Linked DNA regions of Homo sapiens. The protein of the gene in region 6 interacts with the protein of the main gene of each other region in a pairwise test. Each region holds a gene or a part of one and is shown on either strand. Other genes may lie near its edges. The genes, in order: SLC19A3, TRHR, SLC7A8, SLC2A13, RNF170 and FXYD6-FXYD2.

Region 1 (3,766 bases), on a different chromosome or scaffold from region 6:
GGGTCATTATTTAAAAAATTTTTTTCATTACTGAGATACCAAATAAAAAATTTTAATTTAATTTTTCAATGTCAGGTCTACTTATTATTATTAATTTTTTTGAGATGGAGTCTCACTATGTTGCCCAGGGTGGTCTTAAACTCCTGGGCTCAAGCGATCCTCCCTCCTCAGCCTCCCAAAGTGGTGGGATTCCAGGAACAAGCCAAGGTGCCCAACCAGGCCCACTTATTTTTTTCTTCTGTTGTTTGTTCCTTTTAATTATAAATGCACATTTAGTAATCCATTCACATTGCCAAAAATATAAAACTATCATAATGGTTGCATGGCAAATCTCCAGCTCCTTATTCTTCAATGCGAATTTATTTCCCAAGAGGTTAAATGCTTTTTTGTAAAAGTCGTATTTTAATTTACTGGTGGGTTATTCATTTGGTGCAAGCATCAAACACCATGAGAATGTGATGTCTCCCTCCCATTTCCCATTACTCCACAGTAGGCAATCATTGGTATGAGTTTCAGTTGTTTATTTATTTGTTTGATTGTTGGTTTGTTTGTTCAAGACAGGGTCTCACTCTGTCATCAGGGCTGGAGTGCAGTGGCATGATCTCAGCTCACTGCAACCTCCACCTCCTGGGCTCAAGCGATCCTCCCTTCTCATCCCCTCAAGTAGCTGGGAGTCCAGGTGCAAGCCACCATGCCCAGCTAATTTTTGTATTTTTTGTAGAGACAGGGTTTTGCCATGTTGCCTAGGCTGGTTTTGAACTCCTGAACTCAAGCAATCCACCTACCTCAGCCTCCCAAAGTGCCAGGATTACAGGCATGAGCCACCGTGCCAGGCCTCATTTGTCTTTTTAGAAAAGTTATACGCATATATAAGCCAATACAGATATTTTTGTCCTTTTTATACAAATGCTGAGTTGCTGCGTTCATTATTATTTTGGTGCTTGACTTTTTTCCACTTGATAGTAGAGCTCTTAGAGTTCTGTGTCACTAAAGATCTTCCTCATTTTTTAGCAGTTAATTTTGTTATAGGTGAATATGTGAAGGAATCATAATGCATTTTTTAATCCACTTTGGGTCTCACTCTGTCGCTCAGGCTGGAGTGCAGTGGCACAATCTCAACTCACTGCAACCTCTGCCTCCTGGGTTTAAGTGACTCTTATGCTTCAGCCACCGAGTGGCTGGGATTACAGGCATGGACCACACCCGGCTAATTTTGTTGTTTTTAGTACATACAGGGTTTCATCATGTTGCCCAGGCTTGCCTCCAATTCCTGGCCTCATGTGATCTGACCGCCTCAGCCTCCCAAAGTGTTGGGATTACAGGCGTGAGCCACTGCACCTGGCCTCCTTTCCAATTTCTGACCTCTGATTTTTCTTGTTTGTCTAATTGTGATGCCTAATGCCTCCAGAATAATAAGTTAAAAAAGAAGGATAATAGACTGGGTGTGAGGTGGCTGAAGCCTGTAATCCCAACACTTTGGGAGACCGAGACGGGCGGATCACCTGAGACCAGGAGTTTGAAACCAGCCTGACCAACATGGTGAAACCCCGTCTCTACTAAATATACAAAAATCAGCCGGGCATGGTGGTGCACGCCTGTAATCCCAGCTACTCGGGAGGCTGAGGCAGGAGAATTGCTTGAACCCGGGAGGCGGAGGTTGCAGTGAGCTGACATTGCGTCATTGCACTCCAGCCTGGGTGACAGAGCAAGATTCTATCAAAAAAAAAAAAAAAAAAAAAAAAAGAAGAAGAAGAAAAAGAATAGCGGCCATTCCTTCCTTGCCTTTAATGTAAGTAGGAATGTTATTAGTTTTCTCCACTAAGTGAGTGCATTGATTCTTGGGCTGGATCTTAGTCCAGTGAAGAATTTCGGGATTTGGAGAGGAGTATACTTGAGAAACATATTAGTCCATTATCACATTGCTATAAAGAAACACCTGAGACTAGATAGTTTGTAAGAAAAGGGGTTTAATTAGCTCACAGGCTATATAGGAAGCGTGGCAACATCTGCTTCTAGGGAGTCCTCGGGGAATTTTTACTCATGGCAGAAGGCAAAGTGGGAGCAGGCATCTTCACGTGGCCAAAGCAGGAGAAAGAGAGAGTGGGGAGGTGCTACACACTTTTAAACTACCAGATCTCACGATAACTCACTGTCATGAGACCAGCACTGAGGGGACGGTGCCAAACCATTCATGAAGGCTTCACACCCATGATCCAGTCGCCTCCCAGCCGGCCCCACCTCTAACATTGGGGATTACACTTCAACGTGAGATTTGGTGGGGACACAGATCCAAACCATATCAAAATCCAATTAAAAATTTTTTTGTTTGTTTTAGACACAGGGTCTTGCTATATTGGCCAAGATGGTCTCATACCCCTACCCTCAAATTAACCTCTCACTTCAGCCTCCCAAAATGCTGGGATTACAGGTGTGAGCCACAGCTTCCAGCCTTAATATAAATCTTGACTCAGCATTCTTTATTCTCACTGTCAGACTGCTCAATGCATCCCTTATTGAAGTTTCTTGAAGTTTCGAAAAACAGGTATGTTCAGATAATTTTCAGCAGAATTCATCAAAAAATGTTAACAACTCTTTAAAATTTTTACACATTTTATTTAGCACAATTGCTACCATTTAAAAATCAGGTGTTTTGGCCAGGCATGGTGGCTCACGCCTGTAATCTCAGCTCTTTGGGAGGCCGAGGCAGACAGATCACCTGAAGTCAGGAGTTTGAGACCAGCCTGGCCAACATTGTGAAACCCCATCTCCACTAAAAATACAAAAATTAGCCAGGCGTGGTGGTGTGCACCCATAGTCCCAGCTACTTGGGAGGCTGAGGTAGGAGAATGGCTTGAACTCAGGAGGTGAAGTTTGCAGTGAGCCAAGATCACGCCATTGCATTCCAGCCTGGGTGAGAGAGCGAGACTGTCTCAAAAACCAAAACAAAACAAAATCAGGTGTTTTATTCCACTCCCCCCATCAGTGTTTTCTTATTTCTAATACTTCTAGAAACCTCCTTTAAGTTTTCCTATTTTAGACAGACACCACACAGGTGCTCTTTTTTGGGAGGAGGGGGATGAGAGTCTTACTCTGTTGCCCAGGCTGGAGTGCAATGGTGCAATCATAGCTCACTGTAGCCTCTGACTCCTGTGCTCAACCCATCCTCCCACCATGGCCTCCCAAGTAGCTGAGACTACAGGCACACACCACGCTGCCCAGCTAATTTTTTAATTTTTTAGTAGAGTCAGGTGTCACTGTGTTGCCCAGGCTGGTCTTGAACCTCTGGCCTCAAGCAAAACTCCCACCTTGGCCTCCCAAATTGCTCGGATTACAGGAGTGAGCCACTGCACCTGGCCCATAGATGCATTAACACCTGTCTATGGTGGTGGAGAGAAGGCTCACTGCCTCTCCCAGGCCACTGGGAAATGACCTTGTGTATTCTGCAAATACACAAGAGGATCTGAAGCTATTCTTGAGGGAGACTTTCAACAGCAAAACTCAGAGCACAAAATGGAAAATAATCATAAAAAAATTAAATAATAATACTATCAAATCATAACGTGAATAATGCTGTTATTAGAGTTGAAGAGAAGCCCTTAGAAATGGGACAAACATTGTAATTCTCTTAGAGAACTGTAACTTAAACAGAAATACACTTAATAGAAGAGGAAAGAAAATGGTTCATGTGACACAAAGGTCCCATGTGTTGACTTCTTTGGTAAGATCAAATAAGTATTTAAGCCTAGCAATAGGGTCAGTCCAGTTA
Region 2 (2,530 bases), on a different chromosome or scaffold from region 6:
CTCAATAAATAAAATGTTTCTGTAATATTTTTCCCTTTAATTTCAGATATTCATGAACTAGCCCTGTACTATGTTAAAATGAATACTAAATGCAAACATTTAAAAATCTGCATGTTGTCAAATTATCGAATGTATAAATAAATTAGGGAAGTTGAAAAGTGACATTTGATAAGGTTACTATGAATAATGTAAATTGATGTCTAGATTTTATTGAAACTCTATAAGTCCAGAAAATATAGTGAATTTCTTAAGTTAAATGAAAAGGGCTAAACTTTAAGTTTCCATCATTTAGCTATTTCACAGATCTGCTCCATTTTTAGTGATATTAGTTTGTAAGAAGGAAAGTCTGAATCATCCTCATGGGTTAAAGTATCTAGGGCCAGAATTTGTTAGAGCATTGACAAAGACTGATCTGCTCTGTCTTCACATATGACTATTGGCCATGTTCTCCCTTTTGTTGATGACTGCACAGATTCTCATTTTCTTTGTCATCCATTTTCTTCTAATTCATGAATCAACTTTGGCTAAAGGATACCTCAGAAGCCAAGCAGGTGTCATCAAAAGACACTTTTGTGGCAGACAGGTAAGTGTCAGTGACAGTGATATCATCAAGCTCTGTGCTGAAATGGTCTGACTCCTTGATGACGCTGTAATTTAGGGCCACACTGTAGTTAGCAGGTTTCTCTGTTGGCTTCTGCTTGCAGTTGCAGAGCTTTCTGAAGGCTGCACGGAATTTCTGGGACATGAGATTGTAAATCACCGGGTTGATGGCACTGTTGAGATAAATGCAAATTCTGCAAAAGAGCAAAAACCAATTTTCTTGGAAAGGACTGGAGAGAAATGAGTTGACAACCACTAGAGTCCTGTAGGGCATCCATAAAAGGGCAAACAGAATTACAACCACTGCCAGCATCTTGGTGACCTAGGGAGAAATAGAGAGAAATGCTGTACAAACACAAATGAAAACAAAACAAAACCCCCTTTCTTCTCTCACCCAAACCTTTAGTTCCCAAAATGTAGTCTGAGACAAGGAGTTAGGTGCAGGTCATTTATTGGGGAGGTGATCCCAGGAAGCAGGATTAAGGGTTATCAATTAGAATGCTATAGACAAGGAAAAGCCAAAGTAGGAAAAGCCAAAGCAGTGTGTTATTGAGATAGCTCCCCCTATAGCCAACTCTGGCTCAAGTAATGCAATTGAGAATTATCTGTCAGAAGTAAGAGAATGAATGCCAGCGTCCATTCATTAAAGGATATTGTTAAGGACTTTAACTCCTGTGTACTTCCAGGATTCTCTTGCCTGAAAACTCCTAGGGCCTTTAGAGAGACACTTGAGGCCAAGAAGAGGAGAGACAAATGGTACAGTGGATGCCTGAAGTGGGATATTTCCCACTGCAGGAACCATCTACTGCAGCTATGGCTGAAATCAGAGTCTTGTAAGAGAATGTTAGCACAGGGCACCAAAAGTGTCTGTGACAAGCATTAGGAGACTTAGGGTCAAATCCTTTCCTTACTTACCCTATGTGTGGCCTAAGAAATTATCTTAACCTATCTTATAGCTCATCTGTAAAATGGAGCCAACATTGCCCTCCTAAATCAAATGAGGTAACAGTGCATGAAAAGAATAATGCAAAAAAGTCAGTGTTTATTGAATGTTTAGTGACTGCTATGTGCCAGACACTATCCAAGGTGTTTATTTGTTACCATGTTTAAAAAGTTTTAAACCTCCTAAAATAGGTATTGTACCCACTACTTTTTCAAATTAGAAAACAGGTACAGAGGCTGTTAAGTACTTTGGTGGAAGCTGTAGAGTCTCAGGGCTGGGATTACTGTCCAAGTGAGCTTGAATTCAAAGCTTTTGCACTCTTTCAGGTTAAAGGGAAGTGAAAGAGAGAGAAAGCAAATGCTGGAATTTTACCTAATGCTGAAGCCACTCCTAAGTATAAGCAATGCACAGGAAGTAAGACAATAGGTAGGATGAGGTCAATATCCCAGATTGCTCACTGTTCACTGAGCTTCATTCTGACTCAATGTATGTAGGATATTAAGGCTACGTATCTTACCACTAGGAGTAGAAAAATTGTTCAGTGAGAATATGTGATTTCACACTGGTTCATATAATACCAACTAAGACATTCCAGAGATTCTGACTTCTTTTAGAGCCAAAGAGGGTCTACTTAGCAAAGGGGTTAACTGAAACATGATTTTTCCTAAGTAGACTTTAAAAAATATATATAAGTAAATAATTAGTCATAGGAAATCAAAGTGATAAATGTTCTAAGCTTTGGAAGGAGATGTAGTGATTATCATCTTCATTGTCATCATCACCATGATCTTCGTCATTATGAACCACACCCTTGCCTTTATTCTCTGCTTGGTACTCCAGGCACTCTGAAATCAGATCACTGCTTCACACTTGTCAACATTCTCCCACTCCCTGTCAGGGGTAAAGCATCCTACATTGAAATACCTAGTTTAATTTACAATTAGATCTATACCATCACATTTTAGTCCTTTAAGATGGCCCAAGTAA
Region 3 (3,790 bases), on a different chromosome or scaffold from region 6:
CAGGTATTCAAGGGTAGAGGGTATTTTCCTATATACTGATGTTTTTGTCTCTTCCTTTAACATCTTTTTCTAAGATTATGAAGAAATGGGAGTGTTCAGGTATAATAAGTACAATTTCTGTGGGTATATGTTACTACTGATTTGTCCACAACCTTATGGATGGTACTTCAATGGGAGAATAATCTCAAAGCTCCCCATGGTGGCATTACAGTAACTAGAATGGCAATTCTGGTGTTCTGTGATGAAAAGAGATTCCAAATATGTGATTTCAGAGAAATTGGGATATTTTTGCAAAACATGAGAATCCTTGTAGAGTTAATAGGCACTATTCTACCCCAACTTAAGCTAGAAACAAATTTCCCCTTTAAGATGATAACAGGGGACAAAATCCATTCTGCTTCCCCTCCCGAGTTGCTGTTGAGTCACAGATGTGCTGAGGAACTGCCCTTTCCTCTTCTGGAGAAGTTTCTCAGTGGATGATCGTGATTCAAGTGTTTTCAAGACCAAATGCAAAAATAGAAATGGCATTTTCTGTGTAGATTTCAGGGATCTGGTGTCCAATGTCAACACTGCAGAAAAAAAGAGAACTAAAAGGCAAAAAAAGGGCCGGGTGCGGTGGCTCACACCTGTAATCCCAGCACTTTGGGAGGCCAAGGCGGGCGGATCACGAGGTCAGGAGATCAAGACCATCCTGGCTAACACGGTGAAACCTCGTCTCTACTAAAAAATACAAAAAATTAGCCGGGCGTCGTGGCGCATGCCTGTAGTCCCAGCTACTCGTGAGGCTGAGGCAGGAGAATTGCTTGAACCCAGAAGGCAGAGGTTGCAGTGAGCCAAGGTTGCGCCACTGCACTCCAGTCTGGGTGACAGAGTGAGACTCCATCTCAAAAAAAAAAAAAAAAAGTCAAAAAGAGAAAGGAAGTTTTCTAAGTGAATCAGGAGACATGTTATGGAAAAGTAGAATTTGTCCCATCTTTCTTTCTTTCTTTCTTTTTTTTCTGAGACAGTGTCTCGCTGTGTTGCCTAGGCTGGAGTGCTGTGGCGTGCTCACTGCATCGCTGCAGCCTCAAACTCCTGGGCTCAAGCGATCCTTCCACCTCAGCTTCCTCAGTAGCTGTGACCACAGGCATACACCACGACACCTAGCTATTTTAAATTTTTTCTTGTAGAAACAGGGTCTCACTGTATCGCCCAGGCTGGTCTCCAACTCCTGGGCTCAAGAAATCCTCCCACCTCGGCCTATCAGTGCTGGGATTACAGGCATGAGCCACCGTGCCCGGCCCCCAGATCTTTTTTTTTTTTTCAGGGACTGTGGCAAAGTTACATTTGCCCTAAATCTATCTCTCTCATACCTTACTGACTAAGAGGGATAATTTAAACTACATGTTTTGTAAAATTTCATTCACAATCAACATGGATGATTGAAAGCAAGGATAACAGAATGGTAGGTGTTATGGAAATATACAATGAATTAATAGAAGACTTATGCCAGAGAGTTCCTTATATCCTGATTGGGAGGATGAGATGCATATGTACTAAACAGAGAACATTCAAAATTAATGACATGGTTTAGTTGTGAAAGAGCTAAAGTAGGGCAAAGTTATGTGAATGGTGGGAAGCCAGGAGAGAGAGGTTCTTACTAAGAACTAGATTAAGAAGCATCTTGAAGGCTTTGAGGAGAAGATGAAGTAGGGGAGCTGATTCTGGGAGTTTTCTTAGGTAAAAGCATAATGACTAAACTGTTATTTCCTAGATCAAAGATTGTGTCCGTAAAAAAAAATTGAACTATGAGAAAAATTGAGCCAGGTGTGGTGGTGGATACCTGTAGTCCCATCTCCTTGATCATTTTAGCCCAGGAGTTTCAAGCCAGCCTAGGCAACAGAGCAAGACCTCATCTTCATTTTTTTTTTTTTTTTTTTTTTTTGGAGACAAGATCTCACTCTGTTAACCAGGCTGGAGTACAGTGGTGCAATCATAGCTCACTGCAGCCTCGAAAGCAATTCTCCCACCTCAGCCTCCCAAGTAGCTTAATAATTTTTAAAATTATTTTTAATTTTTTTTAGAGACAGGGTCTCCCTATGTTGCCCAGGCTATCTTGAACTCCTGGGCTCAAGCAATCCTCCTGCCTCAGCCTCCCGAAGTGTTGGGGTTACACGTGTGGGCCACCGTGCCCAACAAAACCTTGCCTCTTAAAAAAAAAAAGCAAGTGTCTTATATGTTTCTGAATCTTTAGTGTTTAACAGAATGCCTGCTAAGGAATACTTACTCAAATGATTGTTGAATTTAACCGACTCTAGGACAAAAATATGAATAGGAAACATTTATCTGCAGGGCTGCTGGGAACCTGGCTTGAAAATCTTTAAGCTAGGAGTAGTTTTATCAACCTGGACAATTAGGTTGGCCCATTTTAATCTTTTAACATCATCCTTGTCCTAACCTAATCAGGCTTTTGTTCTCCATGTACTTGGCTAAGGAAACCTGTTGGCAGCATATTAATTTAGATTTCACCATGAACGTGGAGTTCCCCCCAAAGTCGAAAGAGGGTGCGGAGGACAGCAAAGTTCATTTATTAATGATACCAGAGCTACTGTTAATAGCTGTGTTTATTAAACACTTAGTATATGCCAGGTACTCATCCAATTACCTAACATACCTGAACTTATTTGTCATTCACAGTAACTCATTTGGTAGACACTTTATTACCTCTTCCTCCAGATAGGAAATAAAGGCTCAAAGGGGTAAGCAACTTTGCTGAAGGTCACACAACTAAAAAATATTGGAGCTAGGATTCAAACCCAGAGCTTGTCTGCATCCTGAATCAAGCTTGTAAGCATTATTCTTCACTATTTCTATTTTTATCTCCTAAAGGAGTATTTTCTTTTAGAATCTGGACAGAGGTCCTTATTCATTTTTATAGATGAATGAATACTTATTGTATAGCAATTAATTTTGTGTTCCCAGTGAGGAAGACTCCCAGTATAGCAGGGGAGCTGGGCTGTCAGCTGGGAGTGGAAGAAAGTAATATTCCCGGTGCAATTGCAGGAAGACTTGGGTGAGCCTGAGGGGCATCTGGCCAGCACAGACCATGCTCGCATTCATTCCTGCACATGCACACCTTTCCTTTATGGACCAGTGTTCTTCCCAGCCGTGTTAGAGGTACCCACAGAGTTCCTGGCCATTTAGGTACTTTATACCAGTCACGTATCTAGGTATGTAACCAGAATCTGTGTCTTGAAGGCATTAAAAGGAAAACCTTAAACAAATTAAATTTAACAGTGTTTAATTGAGCAAAGAACAATTTGTGAATCAGGCAGCCTCTTGAACCAGAACTGATTCAGAGTTTCTGGGGCAGCCTCATGGTCGAAGAAGATTTATGGGCAGAAAAAGGCAAGTGACATACAGGAAATAGAAGCAAGGTACAGAAACAGCTTGATTAGTTACAGCTCTACATTTTCCTTATTTGAACAAGGGTTGGACAGTTGGCTGCCTTTGATTGGCTGAAACTCAGTGAATGGTACAAAAGTAGGTTACAGTCTATTTACACATCCAGTTAGGTTACGTTTCACTACATATGGAGAAATCTTTAAGTGGAATTTAAAATATGTAAGGAGGCAGCTTTCAGCTAAACTTAACAAAGGTGAAAAAGCTGGCCAGAGAGCTGTAATAATAAAATTAAAAAGTATATAATGTCAGACCATTTTGTTTTCAGCACAATTTATGTTTTTGGGGGATCTTGGTATATTTGCTACAGAACAATACTGGATGCTGATCTAGCTACTAGACCACTATC
Region 4 (3,790 bases), on a different chromosome or scaffold from region 6:
GTTTGTTTAAATAACTAAATATATGAGCAGCTGAAAATTATTCCACATCAGAAGCATCATTGTCAGAAAGATGATAGTTACTTCCCTTTACCCGAATATATTCAATATATCTCCCTTCATCAGAATCTGAAGTGCCACATGTACATAGCCTGTTGTCAAAGAGTGATTCAATTTCCTCTAATTTTTTGCCTTTGGTCTCAGGAAGACAGCCATAGATGAAAAGGAGTCCCACAGCAGCAAATCCAGCATAGAGGAAGAAAGCTCCTGCAACGGAATATAATAGATACATGAATATGAATATATAGAGAGAGGCTTAAGTTGGAAAGATTACTTGATTTTGACTTTTTTTTTCTGGTCAGTCATGCATAATCACAGTATGAAATGGACCAAAAAATTACTATGAACCTGGTTTACTCCAATTGTTCCAACTCTGAGAATATGATGTAATGTATCTTTCTAAACTCAAGTTTAGAAACTCAAGAATAATAGAACAGGCTCAGATGTAAGTTTGGCTTTGAAGCCTTTCCTCCCTTCCCTGACTAGAGGGAATTATTCTCTTCCATGTGCTATCACAGCATGTTGTTGAGACCCCTAAAATAACAACCAAGAAATATTATAATTATGTACACACACGTATGCTTGCCTTGTCTATTACACTAGAGGCACTTTGAGGTCAGAAGAAGTTCCTTTCTTAATTTGTTTTTCATTTCCCTCCACTAGAATGTAAACTCCATGAAGTCAGAGAATTTTGTTTTGCTGTAAGATTATGCATGTCAATGCAGAACAGCCAGAAACACATAAATATTAGCTAGTTTGGTTTTCTAAGGGTCATGATAGCAAGCCTAGATGGATGAGATATATGAATGTATGACTTGTTTATATTCTCTACACATTTCCAAGATGGACTTTTAAAATAATTGAATTCCGACCAGCCTGGCCAACATGGTGAAACCTGTCTCTACCAAACACACACACACACACACACATAATTGAATTGCCAATTTGAATATAAGAAACTATACTTGTACTTTTGATGGTGGAAAACAACAAAGTAAAATGGAGCCCCTGTCTAATTTTAGGCTTTCAGTCCAGACCATCATGTGTATGAGATGGGGGAAGTAAGATGAAAAACTAATGTGACAATTGGCTGGAGAAAGGATATCAGACTGGGAGTGGGAAGAACTGAGTTTAAGTGTTGGCCATGTGACTTCTGGATAGTCATTTAACCTCTTCTCTGGGCCTCTGTTGCCTCATTAAGTAAAATAAGGGGGCTTCTCAGCTCCTACTTAAGTGTTGGCAGTTTATGATTCTGTAAATCTTACAGCCAAAATCAGGGGCATGTATAGGAGATATAGTTAAGAGATGGTTGAGAGAGAGACTTGATCTGTGTAATGGGGAAAATAATTCTAGCTTTGCCCAACTGTAAAGAATAGAAATAATGTATGTTATCATGCCCATTAGAATTCTGAATATCAGTTGCTCAAAAAAGTGATGCCCAGATTGTTAAATTCTACTAAATGACCAGGAAAGGAAGAGTTGCTATTAAGATACAGAATAAGATTAGTGTGACTAATTAATTGGGATGTTTTTACAAAAAGGGTGATACTGATAAGCTAGCTCTTGGAGAATGGGGGAATTTTGACAAAAAAAAAATGAAAGGAGATGAAGTCCTGTGTTCTGAGTACAGATATGCAAGACTGTGGAGGTAGGAAGAGAAATGGAATCTTTAGCAGGGAGGGACAAAGACGGGATAGTAATTATGATGAAGATAAAGAAAAAATAAGTACAGATGGTAAAACATTTTAGATTAAACTAGGCTTCTAAACTACAAAATCTGTAACAGCAAACCCAGTTTGACTTTTAAATATAATAGTATATTTTATCTTCATCATTATCTTTCACAATTTGGGAACAGTAGCATAATTAGAAGTAACAAATCAAATCTGTCAGCGCTAAACTCACTCCTATAGTTAAAAAACATTTGTTGGGTTAGGAAGATTCCTGAAGTTGATTACAGATTCTTTCTTGTGACCTGGATTCCCAAAGCTGAATAATATCAAGGAATTGCTATTAAAATACAAGACCGTTTTACAAAATCTGAGGAATCCAAAGCACGCAAATGCCAAAACTGCCTACTCAGTGTGGGTTCCAATGGTTAGACCTGTGGCTAAGTCGTGGAGGAGTGTGGGCAGACCTGGGAGGCTGTGACCTGGTCCATGTCATGGTCAAATCAGTCACTATCTCAGTTTCTCATTTATTCCTCCCTTGGAGTGAAAATGGCAAGAAAAAATGTCTGTAACGAGTCCATCAGGACTATTGAACAGTTAGATATTCCTCACCTTTATTCTTCTAAGGATTTAAATCTTATTAGAGCCCTACATTAAGTTCCAGATTAAAACAACTATTTAATTGAATTACACAAATTGACTACCTCAAGAGAGAAGCTTTGACATAATGCCCCCCAAGGGATCTCTTTAGCCACATGTGCTGTATATAAAATGGCATATTGGTGATATAGCAATGATACTTTTTAGTAATAAACATTATTGAATGGGGGCACAAGGCAGACCTGTGTAAGCAATATGGTTGAGGAAGGAATCAAATTTTGAGATCTTATGAAACAATAAAAAAGGAGGCAACAAAGAAGACATAACTATTTCCAGAGGAATACACGATTAGGATGTATATTTATTAAATGAGGAATATAAATGCATAGCTTACATAAACCAGTAACATGTGGATTAAAATGAGACACAAAAAGGGAGAAAAACTAGCCTGAATGAACTATTTTTCTACTACTAGAGAGTAGTAGACCAAATGGACCAGTGCTCTGACATGAGAGAAGCTTAATGCAAAGCAACACACTTTTAACTGTTTATTTTTGAAAGAATTCTGCTTATGCCCTATTTAAATTTCATTACTGTTGCCTCATTTTTCTCTGGTTTTCTGGCAGGATAAATTCAAGAAAGAGGAGCTTTGCTGTCAAAAGTATAATCATGTAAACTTTTATTATTTGGTCTATGCCTTTCTATGAAAAATGCTTTCTCAGGATGCGAGCATATACTTAGGTCTTCAAATATTTAAGTGTTCTCTAGAATCAGTAAATACGAGGAAATATTTATTGTGCTCGTATTTATTATGTCATGAAGATAAGTTTATGAATTTATCGAAAAATTTTAATTGCCAAATGGGATCCAGCTGAATATACTAAATATATATCCAGTTTAAAATGCCAGTGCATTTCCTTTCCAAGAAAATAAATATTTCAAATGTCTTAAGTGGTGATTAGGAGAGAGAAGAGTTTTATGAAGATAATAAAAGCATTAGATAAATACCATTAACTAAAAGCAAATACCAGTTCAGCATGGTCAGAAGAGATGGGGAATAGATTTTTATAATGTTTCATCATATTCACCATTCATCTGCAAAATTTATCCATGTATTTATTCATTTGACAAACACTTTTTGGTGCTTATCAGGTGAACAGGATGCCTTGGCAGGAACTGGGAATGTAACAATGAACAAGGCACAGTCCTGGCCCTCCAGGGATTTATAGTCTACTAGAGAGAGCTAAGGGCAGACAAACCTGTTCTTGCAAAGAGAAATGATAAGTGGCCAGAGCACAGAGTAAAGAGATTGCGGGGAGATGAGAGAAGCTCTTCTGGGAGAATGGTCTAAGCAGCAGGCATTCCGTCTCTACCACATGGACTTATGAGGATATTAGAATGAAACCTCATACTTCATCATGAATAATCCTATTGCAACCTATAAAGTCATGTGAACAATGCAG
Region 5 (3,193 bases), on a different chromosome or scaffold from region 6:
AGGTTCAAGCGATTCTCCTGTCTCAGCCTCCCAAGTAGCTGGGACTACAGGTGCGTGCCACCACACCTGGCTAATTTTTGTATTTTAGTAGAGACGGGGTTTCACTATGTTGGCCAGGCTGGTCTCAAACTCCTGACCTTGTGATCTGCCCGCCTTGGCCTCCCAAAATGCTGGGATTACAGGTGTGAGCCACTGCGTCCAGCAGAATTTCATATAATTTAAAACAAAATTTGTTGCATTGAACTGAATGTTGAATTTTTCTTTGTAAAACATCTCCGTGACTAAATTTTCACTGTGGTCTGCAAATTAATTTATTTGCTTAATAGAAAAATAATTTTCAGCACTGGGCATGGTGGTTCACACCTGTAATCCCAGCACTTTGGAAGGCTGAGCCTGGGAGTTTTAGACCAGCCTGGGCAACACAGCCAGACCATGTATCTACAAACTTTTTTTTTTTTTTTTTTAATTAGCCAGGTGTGATGGCACACATCTATAGTCCCAGCTACTTGGGAGGCTGAGACAGGAGGATCACTGGAGCCCAGGAATTCGAGGCTGCAGTCAGCTATGATTGTAACACTGCACTCCAACCTGGGCAAGAGTGAGACCCTGTCTCTGACCAAAAAACAAACACACAAACAAAATAAAAAACCTAACAAAATTAATTAGAAATGTGATGAGATATTGGATGTCCATTAGTGATAAAGCCGTTGCAACCATTATACTGAATGCTCTTTCAGGAGTTCTGAAAGCAAACAACTGTTAAATAAACAGAAAAATAACACCTTTAAAATGTTTTAGATATGTTGCTTTTATTCAAAAGAATAAAATGCTTGACAAACTCTTTAATCACAAGGTTTGAACCAAACCACCAGTCTTCTACAACAACTCTGTGAGGTAGGTATCTGCATAGCCACAAGGGATCCACATAGTCCTTTCTTCCCTTGTACCTCTCAAACACTGAGAATTGTAGTAGTTGAAACCACTGTTCTAGTGGGCAGTTAGAACAGTTGTTTTCCCCGTCTTGTTCCCCACAGAGCTGCCCAAGTTATTATCTGCTCCTGGGGTTGGACCATCTGTTTTATGACAGTTATGATATTGTTGTTTAAAAAAAATCCAAATTGTTACTTTGATTTATATGATCTAACTCTGAATCACGGAAGTATTACTATGATGTTCAAAACTCTGATTGACTCTACTTGCTTTAAAAACTCTCAGATCCCTTCTGCATTTATCATCAGAGATCGGTAAAGATGACAACAAGCAGGTCTAAAGTTCTGAGATGTTAGCACATACCCTTTTCACAATTTAGGAAGCTTTAAGATCATTTAGTATTTTTTTATGTTACAAAATTTGGTACAATACACCTCTTTCAGGAAAGTCTTAGTAGTAACTCCAAATATTATAATTATTGTAACCAGAATTGTGACACTTGGAGCAGAATGCATGCACACAAAATAAAATCCTGTCAAAAAATGACATCACCATTCCCCCACACCAAATGTGTAATTGGTAGGAAATGCATTTCCAGTCTGGTACATGGCAGTGTGACAAACTCCTACTCACTCGCTTTTCAAGTTGGTGACTGCAGCTGAAATGTTTTTCTGTGATGTATGCCACCCTTTTACCTATTTGATTTGGAAGTGTAGAATTCGGATTCATGTCATCTCCACAGACCTTTCCTCTTAGGAGTGCCTAAGCTGTCTTACTCTGATGGAGGTATAATGTAGCACGAAAGACTTCCAAAGAACCAGTTTCTCTCTTGCTGTTCCTCTTAACAACTTTCACGTCTATCTAAACATTCTATGCAGGAGTCCTACTAAGAAATTTTGGTGTAATGCCACTTTGATCAGTTATTTGTTGTATGACTTCATTCAAAAACACTTTCATCAATAGCATGGGGATTGTATCTATGAAAGGGAAGTTGGTGTCCTGCGTTCCTCACAAAATTATCCAAAGGATAAAATGAAAAGTATGTGAGAAACCTGCTTTAATTATAATGTGCTATGTTTAAGCATTATTGTTTTTCTCTATGACAAGCAACAGCTCTGTCCTAGGTCCAAATTAGAAAAACACATATTGATATTTCATTCAGAATCTCATTAATTGGTAGCTGATCTGATTAGCTAGAGAGAATGTGACAGATTTTCTCCTTATCTCCCAGTCTGCATATAGTGAAGCTCACTAATAAATTAATGGATGATATTAATAGCAGTGATCTCAGATGACAATGCTAACACTGACTCCTGGGCATCCCCTCACATCCTGCTGTCATACATTCACTAATGAGCAACGCCAGCTGAAGTGAGTAAGATCTCCCAGTACCATGTGGTACTGAGTCTTCTCAGATACATTCACTTGTTTGGCTCAAGACATGAATCTGAGCTGTGTGCTGCCATCCTGAGACAGTATTATAAAAATTTCTGACAACAGAAAACTAACAAAATTTGTCCAATCTGTTGCTATAGCTAACCAGTAATTTCTTTTGTCAAATGTAAATACCGTTCCCAGTACCTTCCTATTGGCTTGATGCTCAAAGACACGAAGATTCACCTTCCTCAGAAATGCATCAGGCTACTCTGTGTTTGCAGCATCGCCCAGGTTCCTAAAACAATCTTCCCTTTACAAATTACTTTTATATCTACTACGAAAGGATGAGCTCTTGTTTAAATGTCTAACTGTGAACATCAAGTGTGCTGACTGGAGATAAATGTTTTTCATCTTTTTTTTTTTTTTTTTTGAGAGGGAGTCTCACTCTGTTGCCCAGGCTGGAGTGCAGTGGCGCAATCCACCTCCTGGGTTTACGCCATTCTTCTGCCTCAGCCTCCCGAGTAGCTGGGACTACAGGCGCCTGCCACCACGCCTGGCTAATTTTTTGTATTTTTAGTAGAGACGGGGTTTCACCATGTTAGCCAGGATGGTCCTGATCTCCTGACCTTGTGATCTACCCGCCTCAGCCTCCCAAAGTGCTAGGATTACAGGCGTGAGCCACCCCGCCCGGCCATGTTTTTCATCTTAATTCTTCTATTGATTAAAATGTGTTCTGTAAACTAGAATATGATATCGAAGTATGAAGTTCAAGTTTCTTCTTTCAGTTTCAGCTGATAGCAAATAATTAATTATACCAGAATGAAAAGGCAGAACTGCTCCAAATGCACAAAACTTAGCTAGCACTAAAAGAAATACTGAATTTTCC
Region 6 (2,841 bases):
CCCACAGGTGTGCTTGCTGTATCTTCTTTCCATGGGTTGTGTTTTCTGTGTATTTTTCTTTGGGTTGGACCAAAACAAGTCAATGTGCAGTTATTAAGCTCCTGCTGTGTGCCCCTCGGGGCTTGAGGATACATAACTCTCTTTGTCTCCCCCAGAACACTCCGAGTCTGCACTGGACCGTTCTCAGAGCGCTGTCCTGACTGCCATGTCTTTGGATGCTAGCCCTAATCTTGTGAGGCAGGTGGGATCATCCCTATTTAACAAATGAGTTTGGGACCATGGTTAGCAGCGGGGGGCCTAGTCCCCCTGTCTGGCCCTCCGGTTACCCAGTTACCCCGTGGGTTTGCTCTCACTTCTGCGGCTCCTCCCGGGCCCACTGGAGGGTGCACTTGAGCAAGCAGGAACCTCACACTGTGCTCCCAGCGAGCCTGGCACCCCACCGGGCACCCATTCCCACATCCTGCAGTGGGGGGCGTGGTGGGGAGGCTCACCCCTCCCTTGGCAACTCCCGAAAGCCAGCCTGCTCAGCGGCCTTGAGAAGAGAGGTGCCCTGGTCAGCACCCCTTCCCTGGAGGCCACCCCACTTACTGAGGAGGATGAGGAGCCCCACGATGAAGGCCAGTCCAGCGAAGATCAGGCCCCCATTGCGAACGGTCTCATAGTCTCCGGAAAGAGAGGGCAAGAGGAGCGGGATGGGTGGTCTCTCCCAGCAGCTGTCTCTCTCCGCAGCCTGCCCGCAGCAGCCCGTGGTAACCAGGGGAGATAAGGGGCACAGAGCATGGACCTGGGGCTGGGAGAGGCCGCTGCTTGGTGGAAGGGGTCCTGAGGGCTCAGGAAGGGTGCGCAGGGGCCCAGGCTTACCATAGTAGAACGGGTCCACGTCCCCCTTGGGGCTGCCGCCTAGGAGAGAGCCAGAGGTGGGATGAGAGGAGTCACCGATGGTGAGCCAGCCACAGGAACAGCTGGAATTCCCTGTCCTTCCCTTCCCAGAGGACCCTCGAGGGTCCAAGCAGGCGAGGGGAGGCTGGGAGCAGGGGTGTTGCTAAAACCATTGCCAGCAGGCTTCTGCTCCAGGCGGCTTCAGACACGCTCAACTGGGGACCAAATACCGAGTGTCCGAGGGGGATCCGTGCTGTCTGGGGGGCCTCTGACCACTCCGGAAGGGTGGCTCTCTCCTGCTCCTTGATTCCTACCATGGTAGAAAAGGCCAGGAGAAGCCTCTCCCATTAGACTCCCAGCGGCCTCTCTCCACAGGACCATTTGGCTATCAGGTGCTTAGCAGCTATTTGGGAAATGCATGAATAAATAAAACAGAACCTTAAAGTTTATCAGACAGAAGGAGGAAGCCGAGCCCAATGTGTAGACTTGTTCAAAGTCCTAATGAAAGCTGAGACAGACCTCCTTTCCTGCGTTACCATCCTCAGGGGAAGCAGATCTAGTTAAGAAACATTAATATATAGTGCTGGTCAGGCACCGGGCAAAAACTAACAAACCCTAACTCATCTAACCATTATGGCAACCTTATGAGGCGTCAATGTCATTCTGGTGTAATCCACAAGAGGGTGGAAGTGCAGAGAAGAAATTCCCCCACAGTTATACAGCAAGTCAGGGGTAGAGCTGGTGTTTGAACCCAGGAAGCAGGGGGCTGAGAATGGAGGTGCATAAGCCCTTTGATCTGCCACCTCTCAATGGCGGGAGGGAAGGAGCCCGTTAGAGGTAAGGTCCTGCCCCTGCCTCTGGTGGCCTCCCCCGGATTTGGAGCCGCTCAGCAGGCAGGTCTCACAGTGGTGCCCTGCAACTGAGTACACTTGCCCCGGACAGCCAGACGGTGGCCTGGCCAGGACGCTTCTGCCACAGCTAAGGGCCGCTACTCTTTCCTGCCCTGCCGGAGCCCCTTCTCGCACGAGGGAAGTGGAGCCCGAGGAGGAAGGAACGCGCAAGTTAGCACTTTCCGGGCTGTGCCAAACTGTGCCCCTGAGCAGCAGTGAGACTTAGGGTCTGTCAAGCCCAGCTGTCCCCAGCGGCCAGTCCCTGGGCCAGGAAAGGACAGGCCAGGAAGAGTCAGTGCCCATCCTGACGGGCCTGAGGTGCTGGGTGCTCAGGGAGGCCATGAAGGACCCAGGTCCCACACAGAAGGCCGTCAGGGCTGTCTTCCCAGATTTGGTTCAGGCCTTGTTTAAGGTCATATGGGGATTTAAGTGTCAGAGCAACAGCTAGACGCCAGCTGAGGCTTCCCCACACGCCCCAGGAAACCTCCTCCTCCGTGGCCACCTGGCCCTGAGCCGCTTGCTGAGACCCTCCCTGCCCAGCACCCTCCCCTTTCTGCATCTGGCTCAAAACCCACCTCTGTCAGCAAGTGCCCCTCTTGGTTTCCAGGCCTGAGTCAGTTCCTGTGACAGGAAGCCTTTGGAGAGTGTGACTTGAACTTGGCGGGCTCTCACCCCAAATCCAGCCTAGGAAGGCTGACCAGAGGGGCCTGCTCCTTCCCCAGCCAGATGGACGCCGTCTGCCTCCCGCCCAAGTTCAGACGGTCTAGCAAGATGCATTGAACTCAGGGCGGGTGTGTGCCAGGAGGCCGAGGAGGAACGCTCAGCTCTCCAGCTTCTATCTGCTGCCTTTCTGCCACTCAAGCTATCTTTCTTTGGGGTTAAAGCAGGGTCCTCCTTTAAGTTGCAAATTTTCTTAGAGAGGAGGCCGACAGGAAGAGGGGCTGGGTACTCTGGAAGGCTGAGGTGGCAGGAGAGGGAAGAGTAGGGTCCAGCTGACCCCACAAAGGCAGGCCAATCAGAGCCACCCAGCATTGCACACGCCCGGGCACGCACACCAGCACACTCACCACCG

The links.
Region 1: the proteins of FXYD6-FXYD2 (region 6) and SLC19A3 interact in a two-hybrid assay, tested with the Homo sapiens proteins (one large-scale study listed by BioGRID).
Region 2: the proteins of FXYD6-FXYD2 (region 6) and TRHR interact in a two-hybrid assay, tested with the Homo sapiens proteins (one large-scale study listed by BioGRID).
Region 3: the proteins of FXYD6-FXYD2 (region 6) and SLC7A8 interact in a two-hybrid assay, tested with the Homo sapiens proteins (one large-scale study listed by BioGRID).
Region 4: the proteins of FXYD6-FXYD2 (region 6) and SLC2A13 interact in a two-hybrid assay, tested with the Homo sapiens proteins (one large-scale study listed by BioGRID).
Region 5: the proteins of FXYD6-FXYD2 (region 6) and RNF170 interact in a two-hybrid assay, tested with the Homo sapiens proteins (one large-scale study listed by BioGRID).

What each region holds. Positions count from the first base shown.
Region 1 is NC_000002.12:227,683,263-227,687,028, forward strand, and holds the end of SLC19A3 (thiamine transporter 2), read right to left. Parts: 3' UTR 501-3,766; downstream 1-500. UniProt on the Homo sapiens protein: Mediates high affinity thiamine uptake, probably via a proton anti-port mechanism. Has no folate transport activity. Mediates H(+)-dependent pyridoxine transport.
Region 2 is NC_000008.11:109,117,440-109,119,969, reverse strand, and holds part of TRHR (thyrotropin-releasing hormone receptor), read right to left. Parts: intron 923-2,530; coding exon 515-922; 3' UTR 1-514. UniProt on the Homo sapiens protein: Receptor for thyrotropin-releasing hormone (TRH). Upon ligand binding, this G-protein-coupled receptor triggers activation of the phosphatidylinositol (IP3)-calcium-protein kinase C (PKC) pathway.
Region 3 is NC_000014.9:23,177,020-23,180,809, reverse strand, and holds part of SLC7A8 (large neutral amino acids transporter small subunit 2), read left to right. Parts: intron 1-3,790. UniProt on the Homo sapiens protein: Associates with SLC3A2 to form a functional heterodimeric complex that translocates small and large neutral amino acids with broad specificity and a stoichiometry of 1:1.
Region 4 is NC_000012.12:39,759,989-39,763,778, forward strand, and holds part of SLC2A13 (proton myo-inositol cotransporter), read right to left. Parts: intron 265-3,790; coding exon 38-264; 3' UTR 1-37. UniProt on the Homo sapiens protein: H(+)-myo-inositol cotransporter. Can also transport related stereoisomers.
Region 5 is NC_000008.11:42,852,511-42,855,703, forward strand, and holds the end of RNF170 (E3 ubiquitin-protein ligase RNF170), read right to left. Parts: 3' UTR 791-3,193; downstream 1-790. UniProt on the Homo sapiens protein: E3 ubiquitin-protein ligase that plays an essential role in stimulus-induced inositol 1,4,5-trisphosphate receptor type 1 (ITPR1) ubiquitination and degradation via the endoplasmic reticulum-associated degradation (ERAD) pathway.
Region 6 is NC_000011.10:117,821,818-117,824,658, forward strand, and holds part of FXYD6-FXYD2 (FXYD6-FXYD2 read-through protein isoform 1 precursor), read right to left. Parts: coding exon of another isoform or gene 2,837-2,841; intron 901-2,836; coding exon 862-900; intron 664-861; coding exon 589-663; intron 1-588. Other genes in the region: FXYD2 (sodium/potassium-transporting ATPase subunit gamma), read right to left, coding at 589-663, 862-900, 2,837-2,841.